2 separate regions of the Homo sapiens genome follow, and region 1 is linked to region 2. Evidence: fine-mapped expression QTL. A gene starts in region 2. The other region holds a variant in brackets. All regions are shown on one strand. Distances are from middle to middle. Region 1 overlaps BCKDHA (branched chain keto acid dehydrogenase E1 subunit alpha). Region 2 holds the start of B9D2 (B9 domain containing 2).

What was found. PIP is the estimated chance that this variant, and not a neighbour inherited with it, causes the effect.
Region 1: its variant is the best candidate, but not a certain one, in a credible set for the expression of B9D2 in whole blood (TOPMed, PIP 0.75).

Annotation. Positions count from the first base shown.
Region 1 is chr19:41,417,188-41,421,570 of GRCh38, reverse strand. It overlaps BCKDHA (branched chain keto acid dehydrogenase E1 subunit alpha), which reads right to left. Exons shown (of 9, transcript NM_000709.4): 5 at 2,275-2,436. Among named protein-coding and RNA genes, the nearest start is that of B3GNT8, 8.0 kb to the left of the region's middle. The variant G/A (reference allele first, on the strand shown) is at 2,282.
Region 2 is chr19:41,361,995-41,366,377 of GRCh38, reverse strand. B9D2 (B9 domain containing 2) reads left to right here and starts at 2,229. Exons shown (of 4, transcript NM_030578.4): 1 at 2,229-2,420; 2 at 2,855-2,946. The coding sequence starts at 2,859. It also overlaps a transcript of TMEM91 not described here. RefSeq lists an enhancer at 2,254-2,373.

The sequences.
Region 1 (4,383 bases), 55 kb before region 2:
CTACACCCGCTCACTCCACACCTGCTCACTCCACACCTGCCCCTCTGGGCTCCTCCCAGCTCCTCAAACACGCCAGGCTCACACCTGCCTCAAGACACCACACAGCTCCCCCCTCACATCCTCTGGTCCATACTTCAGTGTCACTCCAGTGACGGACCCCAGCCACCCCTACAGTGCACCACACCCGGCTGGCTTGGCTGCTCCCTACAGGACCCCCACCCTCATATACTCCAGGAGTTCCCTCTCCATCTCTGTTACTGTCCGTCTCCCCCACCACAATGGCAGCACCAGGAGGGCTGAGGTTTGCGTTGCTTTTGTTCCCTGCACTTGGAGTGGCACCGGCACATGGCAGGAACTTCGTGTATTTGAAGTGACTTAGCAGGGACCCAGAGGGAAGGTTAGGGCCACGCCCCAGCCTTGTGGAAACCCTATTACCTTTAGCTCAAATGCCCCCTAAATGCCCCCTCCTCTGAGAAAGCTTCCCTGCCCACCTCCCACCTAAGAGGCTCAAACTGCTTCTTGTTCCTCAACAAAAGAACACTATGAGCTAAGGGGTGTGGAGCCTCCTGCTGTGCTGGGCACAGTGCTGAGGCCTGGAGAGACACAAACTCATGCATCTCAGCTGCCCTAGGGCAAAGAAGCCAGGGCCCAGACCAACCCTAGATCAGGCTACAGGCCCCGGAGGACAGGAAGGGGCTCCGATTCCTTGTTCTCCACACTATGAGGGTGCAGGCCTGGCACCCAGTGGGTTTGCTTCCCAAAAAAGCTCTTATAAGGGAAGGGACTTCAGGGCACCTACGGTAAGCTTTGGGGAAGCTTACTTGACTCTGAGGACTGAGGCAGACAAAGGTCAGGGCCAAGAACCCAGGCTCTGGAGGTACACAGTCAATGACTTGAGTCCCTGCTCCTCTCCCTCTGTGCCACATGACCGTTAGCGAGTGACTTCCCTCTTTGACTTCAATTTCCTTTTTTTTTTTTTTGAGACAGGATCTCACTTTGGCTAGAGTGCAATGGCACGATCTCAGCTCACTGCAAACTCTGCCTCCCAGGTTCAAGCAATCCTCCTGCTTCAGCCTCCTGAGTAGCTAGGATTACAGGTGTGCACCACCATGCCAAGCTAATTTTTGTATGTTTAGTAGGGACAGGGCTTTGCCATGTTGGCCAGGCTCCTGCACTTTTTTTTTTCCCATTCACTTGCTGTCTCTCACACACACACAAAACACGGGCATCCTGCTCTTGAAAACAGGAACAAGAGCAAATAATAACCTCTGTCCCCATGGCCACAATGAGGGTCCTTATTAGATGATGAACGTGAAGCATTGGCACAGTGGAACCTGGTGCACACGTTGGCTATGTTTGTGAGCAGACAAATGCAGTAGGCATGTGGTTGGGAAATCCAGAGTGTGGTCACACAGGCTTCAGGCCCCTGAATGGGGTGGGGACAGCAACAGAGCCCTCTTCTGAAGGGTCCCAGACAAGAGGTGCATTCAAAGTCTGGAACACAGGCCAGGTGCAGTGGCTCACATCTGTAATCCCAGCACTTTGAGAGGCCAAGGTGGGCAGATCACTTGAACTCAGGTTCAAGACCAGCCTGGCCAAAATGGTGAAACCTTATCTCTACAAAAAATACAAAAATTTAGCCAAGCACAATGGCATATGCCCATAATCCCAGCTACTCAGGAGGCTAAGGCAGGAGAATCACTTGAGCCTGGGAGGTGGAGGTTACAGTGAGCCGAGATTGCACCATTGCACTCCAACCTGGCTGACGAGAGTGAAACCCCGTCTCAGACCAAAAAAAAAAAAAAAAAAAAAAAAAAAAAAAAAGTGGGCTGGGCACAATGGCTTAAACGCCTGTAATCCCAGCACTTTGAGAGGCTGAGGCGGGTGGATCACCTGAGGCCGGGAGTTTGAGACCAGCCTGGCCAACACGGTGAAACCCTGTCTCTATTAAAAATACAAAAATTAGCTGGGCGTGGTGGTGCACACCTGTAGTCTCAGCTAATCGGGAGGCTGAGGCAGGAGAATTGCTTGAAGCTGGGAGAAGGAGGCTGCAGTGAGCTGCGATAGCACCACTGCACTCTAGCCTGGGCAACAGTGCAAGACTCCGTCTCAAAAAAGAAAAAAATAAGAAGAAGAAGTCTGGAGCACAGACCAGGGCTCTAGTGGTGTCACCAACCCAGAATTCCACCCAGAAGGCAGGCAAAAGAGCTGAGGCCTGGACAGGGGTGTGACATTGGTCTGCACATGTGCAAGGTACAGGGCATGCATCCTCACCCTGAGG[G/A]ATCTGCGTGGCCAGTGGAGAGGAGATAGTGACGAAGTGGCGTTCCTTGCAGCCGTAGTGGACAGGCATCTGGCGCCCCTTGCCCAAGTCACTGATGTTGCCATAGCACTGGGCCATGAATAGTTCCAGGGGGTAGTCCCGATACATCAGCACACCTAGGAGGGGAGGAGGCAATGGTTAGCCGAGTGGGCAGTACAGGGGGACAGTTCAGCCCTGTGGGTGACCTGCAGCATGCTGGCAGGCAGACAGGAAAGCTCAGGCTTGTTTTAAGAGGAAGACTGATGTTCAGACTGACTGACTCTGCCCAGCAAGGCCAATCTGATTTTTCAAAAGAAAGCAGAAATCTAGCCTTTTTCTTTCTTTCTCTTAGTGAGATATTGTCTGGTATTTAAGTGCTTTCAACTAATTCAATTACCTTTAAGAAATATTCTAACCATAAATCATTACTATGGCCAGGCATGGTGGTTCATGCCTGTAATCCCAGCACTTTGAGAGGCTGACGTTGGAGGATCGCTTGAGCCCAGGAGTTGGAGACCAGCCTGAGCAACATGGTGAGGCCTCGCTTCTACAAAAAAAAAAAAAAATCAAAACATTAGCCAGGCATGGTGATGTGTGCCTGTGGTTCCAGCTACTTGGGAGGCTGAGGCAGAGGATTGCTTCAGCCCAGAAGTTCAAGGCTGCAGGCAGCTGAGATCGTGCCACTGCACTCCAATCTGGGCTACAAAGCAAGACCCTGTCTCGAAAAAAAAAAAAAATCATCATTATGAACCAAATAACAGCATAGACCACTAATTTACAACTTCTGGACTACAGAAGTACTCTAACCCATGTATGGCAGTAAAACCTTTTCTTCAAACAAAACCTCTGGTGAACACCCACCTCCCCATCAAAGGGAACCGCTCCAGGTTAAGGGGGCCCTTCCTCCGAAGTTAGAAGACAGAAGGGGGTTTGTGATTGCCCTCAGACAAGCTCTTTGCCCCGCCTGAAGAGTGGGACAACCTTCACACCAACACTTTAGGGGCAGCGCTGTGGATCAATGCTGCAAGCACTCAGACCGGGAACATTATTCAGAGGGAGCTCTCTAGTACAGTGCTTTCCAAATCCTTTCTTTACCGCAGAACCCGCTCTTTAGATACAAATTTAATGGAGATCACATTACACACAGCAGTTACCTTTTTTTTTTTTTTTTTTTTTTTTTGAGACAGAGTCTGGCTTGGCCACCCAGGCTGGAGTGCAGTGGCGCAATCTGAGCTCACTGCAACCTCCACCTTCCAGGTTCAAGCAATTCTTATGCCTCAGCCTCCCAGATAGCTGGGATTCCAGGTGTGCACCACTAGATCTACCTAATTTTCTTTCTTTTTTTTTTTTTGAGACGGAGTTTTGCTCTTGTTGCCCAGAATGCAATGGCGCAATCTTGGCTCACTGCAACCTCTGCCTCCTGGGTTCAAGCGATTCTCCTGCCTCAGCCTCCTGAGTAGCTGGGATTACAGGCATGTGCCACCACATCCAGCTAATTTTTGCATTTTCAGGAGAGACGGGGTTTCTCCATGTTGGTCAGGCTGGTCTCAAACTCCCGACCTCAGGTGATCCACCCACCTCAGCCTCCCAAAGTGCTGCAATTACAGGTGTGAGCCACCACGCCCAGCCCACTTGTTGATATTTTAGTTAGAGTTGAGGGTGGTTAGCACTACTTCAACATCCAACTTTAATACAGGTTTACTGGTATTTTCTGACACATGCTTTTGAATGGACATAATACAAATCCACACAAGATGTGGCTGTGCTGCATATGTAACAGATAGAAACAGGAGTTGCTCTGGTTAAGGAGGGAAAGAAAGGTCTTGTAGAGGGTCAAAGAAGGTCCAAGGGACTGATACAGGACCTTGGAATCAGGCTTTCTCAGAATGTGGTACTAGGTCCACCCATGTGAGAAGGACTGGGCAGGGGCAGGGGAACGTGCTAAAAGTACAAACTTGTCAGGCTCAGTGGCTCGTGCCTGTAATCCCAGCACTTTGGAAGGGTGAGGCAGGTGGACTGCTTGAGCTCAGGAGTTTGAGACCAGCCTGGGCAACACAGCGAAACCCCGTCTCTACCAAAAATCA
Region 2 (4,383 bases):
AAAGAGGTGAGAAGTGGGATTTAGGGTGTATTTCAAAAGTAGAGGCAGTAAGATTTCCTGATGGACAAAATGGGGGCTTGAGAAAAGAGAATGCAAGGCTGGTGCCACCACTAGGGGACCAGGGGCCCCAAGAGCTGAAAGGTTAGAGCTGTCTACCTCACCCACACAGCATCCAGAAATAAATAAATAAATAAATACATTTTCCCCAGCTCCAGCTTAAAGGACAGAAAGATCATTTAAAAGTGAAACCTCTGCCAGGTGCAGAGGCTCACTCCAGCCTGGGCAACAGAGCAAGATTCTGTCTCAAAAAAAAAAAAAAAAAAAAGTAAATAAATAAAATAAAAAAGAAAATACAAAAAGTAGCTGGGCCCAGGCGAGGTGGCTCATGCCTGTAATCCCAGCACTTTGGGAGGCTGAGGCAGAAGGATCACATGAGGCCAGGAGTTCGAGACCAGCCTGACCAACATGGTGGAACTCCATCTCTACTAAAAGCACAAACATTAGCTAGATATAGTGGTGGGTGCCTGCAATCCCAGCTACTAAGGAGGCTGAGACAGAAGAATTGCTTGAACCTGGGAGGCGGAGGTTGTGGTGAGCAGAGATCATGCCACTGCACTCCAGCCTGGGCGACAGAGGGAGACTCTGTCAAAAAAAAAAAAAAAAAAAAAAACCCGGCCGGTCACGGTGGCTAACGCCTGTAATCCCAGCACTTTGGGAGGCTGAGGCGGGTGGACCACCTGAGGTCAGGAGTTTGAGACCGGTCTGGCCAATATGGTGAAAACCCGTCTCTACTAAAAATACAAAAATTAGCTGGGTGTGGTGGTGCACGCCTGTAGTCCCAGCTACTCGGGAGGCTGAGGCAGGAGAATCTCTTGAACCCGGGAGGCAGAGATTGCAGTGAGCTGGGATCGCACCACTGCACTCCAGCCTGGATGACAGGGGGAGACGCCATCTCAAAAAGTAAAAAACCAAAATTATAACGAGGGTACAACATTTCAATAGGATAACATTTATATTAAACAATTCAATGGAATACTTCACTAGTTGATATATGCATTATTAATGGGGTCTCCCTATATTCGAACTTCTGGCCTCAAGAGCTCTTCCCGCCTCAGCCTTCCAAAGGGCTGGGATTACAGTTATGAGCCACCGCGCCTAGCCAATGGTAGCTTGTAAATACTTTGTATCTATTGGCCTGGCTGGGTGGCTCACGCCTGTAATCCCGGCAGTTTGGGAGGGAGAACTGGGAGGATAGCTAGAGCCCAGGAGGTCAAGACAAGACTGGGCAACATAGCAACATAGCAGGACTCCATCTCTTAAAAAAAAAAAAAAGAATTAGCCAGCCGTGGTGGTGCATGTCTGTGATACCAGCTACATGGGAGGCTGAGGTAGGAGGATCCCTTGAACCCAGGAGTTAAGAGGCTGCAATGAGCTGTGATCGAGCCACCGTACTCCAGCCTGGGTGACAGAGTGAGACCCTTTTAAGGAGCCTTGATGGGACCTGATGACTGGCTTGATGTGGGAAATGATGGCATCTAGGATGGCATCCAGGGACAACATCTCCATTTCTTGATTGATAAATCAATCAATAGGAAAGAGGATTTTCTGCAAATAAGGGAATCTTAGTTCCTCATTTCTCTTCGCTACCCCAACCGCTCCTTGCTCAGAATCAAGCAGTAACAGTGAACTTGGTAGTAGCTCCGAGAAGGAAGTTGGACTTATCCAACTTCCTTCCTTCCTTGTCCTTGAGAAACCTAGGGGAACTCTAAAACGGAAGCAGAACCCACTCCCCAACTTCTCCACTCTCTGAATGAGGAGTGATTTTTTTGCTTTGTTTTCCAGTTACAAGGCCGGGGATGTACACGAGGTCCTGGAAGGAATTCCCCCTTGGTCCTGGTTCAATCTCTGATTTGTGATCCCGGACCACAGAGAGCTCTTCGGTGGGGTAGGCGCAGCACGGAGCAGTTAGGGATTTGCTTTTTTGGTAAAGAAGGTATCTGGGAGAAACTGCACTCAAACTTCCTCAGCCACACTCAACATGGCAGCTTCCTAGCCACGCCCAAAATGGCGGAACCCTTTGCCGTAGCTGGAGAGACGCTATTTTCCCAAAATGGAGCGGAGGAGGAAAATGTCCATCACAGCTTCACCCCGCCCCCCGCAGACGGCTAGCACCAATTAGTAGCGCGCAGAGCGAGTACAAAGCTAGGGGAGGAGCCTGCTGTTGCCCCAGCAACAACCACGGAAACCAAGACGAGCGCGGTCGCGGAAGTATCGCGGCTTACATATCTCGCAGCCAGGCGGGTCCTGGGAGAGGCGCGAGCCAGGCCTGGTCGGCGCCCGCGGAGAAAAGAAGCAGTCAAGCCCATGAACTACAACCCCGGTTGCCGCTTTCTCCTCTCCTAACCGTTAAGTGCGCTAAGGTAGGAATGACGCATGCGCTGCGCTTAGAGGCGGGGTTAAGTCGGACCTGAACTCATAACGCATGCGCCTTATGGAGCTTGCTGGGGGAGGGAAGCGGGGTGGCTGGCGTGACGCGGAAGGCGGGTCTTTTGCGCTCGTGGGCGGAGCCATAGCCCCTTCGGGCGGGGCTTTCCGCCGACCTGAACCCGAAAAGGTTATTTTGGACTTCCCAGAGTTAAATGCTGGTTCCCCAGACAAGGGTCCCCCCATTTTTTCCAGGCTTTCATGGGTTGGCAATTAGGATCTGTGGTCAAGACCTCAGCCTCAGGGGTGTGACGAAGCTAGCTTGGAATCCTAGTACTACCCTTTACTTGCTGGGCCTCAGTTTCCCCCCCGTCAAATGGAGATAATACACTTACCTCACAGGGTTGTGATTATATTTTTCCCCTCCCAGGGCCATGGCTGAGGTGCACGTGATCGGGCAGATCATAGGGGCCAGCGGTTTCTCGGAAAGTAGCCTCTTCTGCAAGTGGGGCATTCACACAGGTATTCCCCCAAGCCTGGTTCATTTCCACACCAAGACCCCTAGCCTAGAGGCTACATGCTCCTTCCTCCACCCCTTAACGCAGACTCTTAACCTCATTTCCATCAGTTCTCAGTACTCCAGGCCCAGCCCACACCCTGTCCACATGAGTCTCAAGCTCCCATCTTTGTGTGTGTGAGGGGTGGGATACAGACAGGGTCTCTCTCTGCGCCCGGGCTGGAGTAAGGTGGTGTGATCATAGCTCAGTGCAGCCTCGAACTCTCGGGCTCTAGTGATCCTCCCGCCTCAGCCTCCTGAGAAGCTGGGACTACAGACACGCACCACCAAATCTGGCTAATTTTTTTTATTTTTTGTAGAGACAGGGTCTCGCTATGTTGCCCAGGCTGGTCTCGAACTCCTGCGCTCAAACAGGCCACCCACTTCAGCCTCTCAAAGTGCTAGGATTAAAAACGTGAGCCGCCACGTCCCAGGAAAGTAATTTTGTTCATGCTTCCCCAACTGAGGCCCTATAGAGTCATGGTATAGTGTAATGGTTAGGGTCATGGGCTGCCAGATCTGCATTTAAATATTAACTCCCCCACCTATTAATTGGAGACCTTTGGACTCGACCACTTTGAGCCTCAGTTTCCTTGTTTCAAAGTGAAGCTAATAGTAGCTAAGAAGCAGCACAGGTTTGAGGTTAAGAGCACAGACTGCCTGGGTTCAAAACCAGTTATTGCTTGTTAAGGCACCCTTGGGCTGATTATGTGAACTTGGGCACTTCTCTTCACCTCGACTTCCTTGTTTGTACAATGAGAGTCATAGAAATATTTACCTGTTGAAGTTGTCATGAGTACTAAACGAGTATCAACAGCACTTAGAATAGGAATAGGGCTGGAATAGGAAGTGCTCATTCAGTGTTTGCCTGGCTTATACAAGACTTTGATGGGGTCTTGTTTGTAAAGCCTGGGGTATGTTGTTGCGTGGCACAGATGAATGTCTATGAAACAGATGTGGCCATTTGGCATTATCATGTCTTCAGGCCTGAGTCCTAGTCCCTTTTTTTTTTTTTTTTTTTTTTTTGAGACTCGTTCTGTTTCCCAGGCTGTAGTGCAGTGGTGCAATCTAGCTCAGCCTTCCAGGTTCATGCCATTCTCCTGCCTCAGCCTCCTGCATAGCTGGGACTACAGGCGCTCGCCACCATGCCCGGCTATTTTTTTTTTTTTTGTATTTTTAGTAGAGATGGGGTTTCACTGTGTTAGCCAGGATGGTCTCGATCTCCTGACCTTGTGATCTGCCCATCTCGGCCTCCCAAAGTGCTGGGATTACAGGCGTGAGCCACTGCGCCTGGCCCTTTTTTTTTTTTTTTTTTTTTTGAGACAGAGTCTCACTCTGTAGCCAAGCTAGAGTGCAGTGGCACGATCTCGGCTCACTGCAATCTCTGCCTCCTGGGTTCAAGC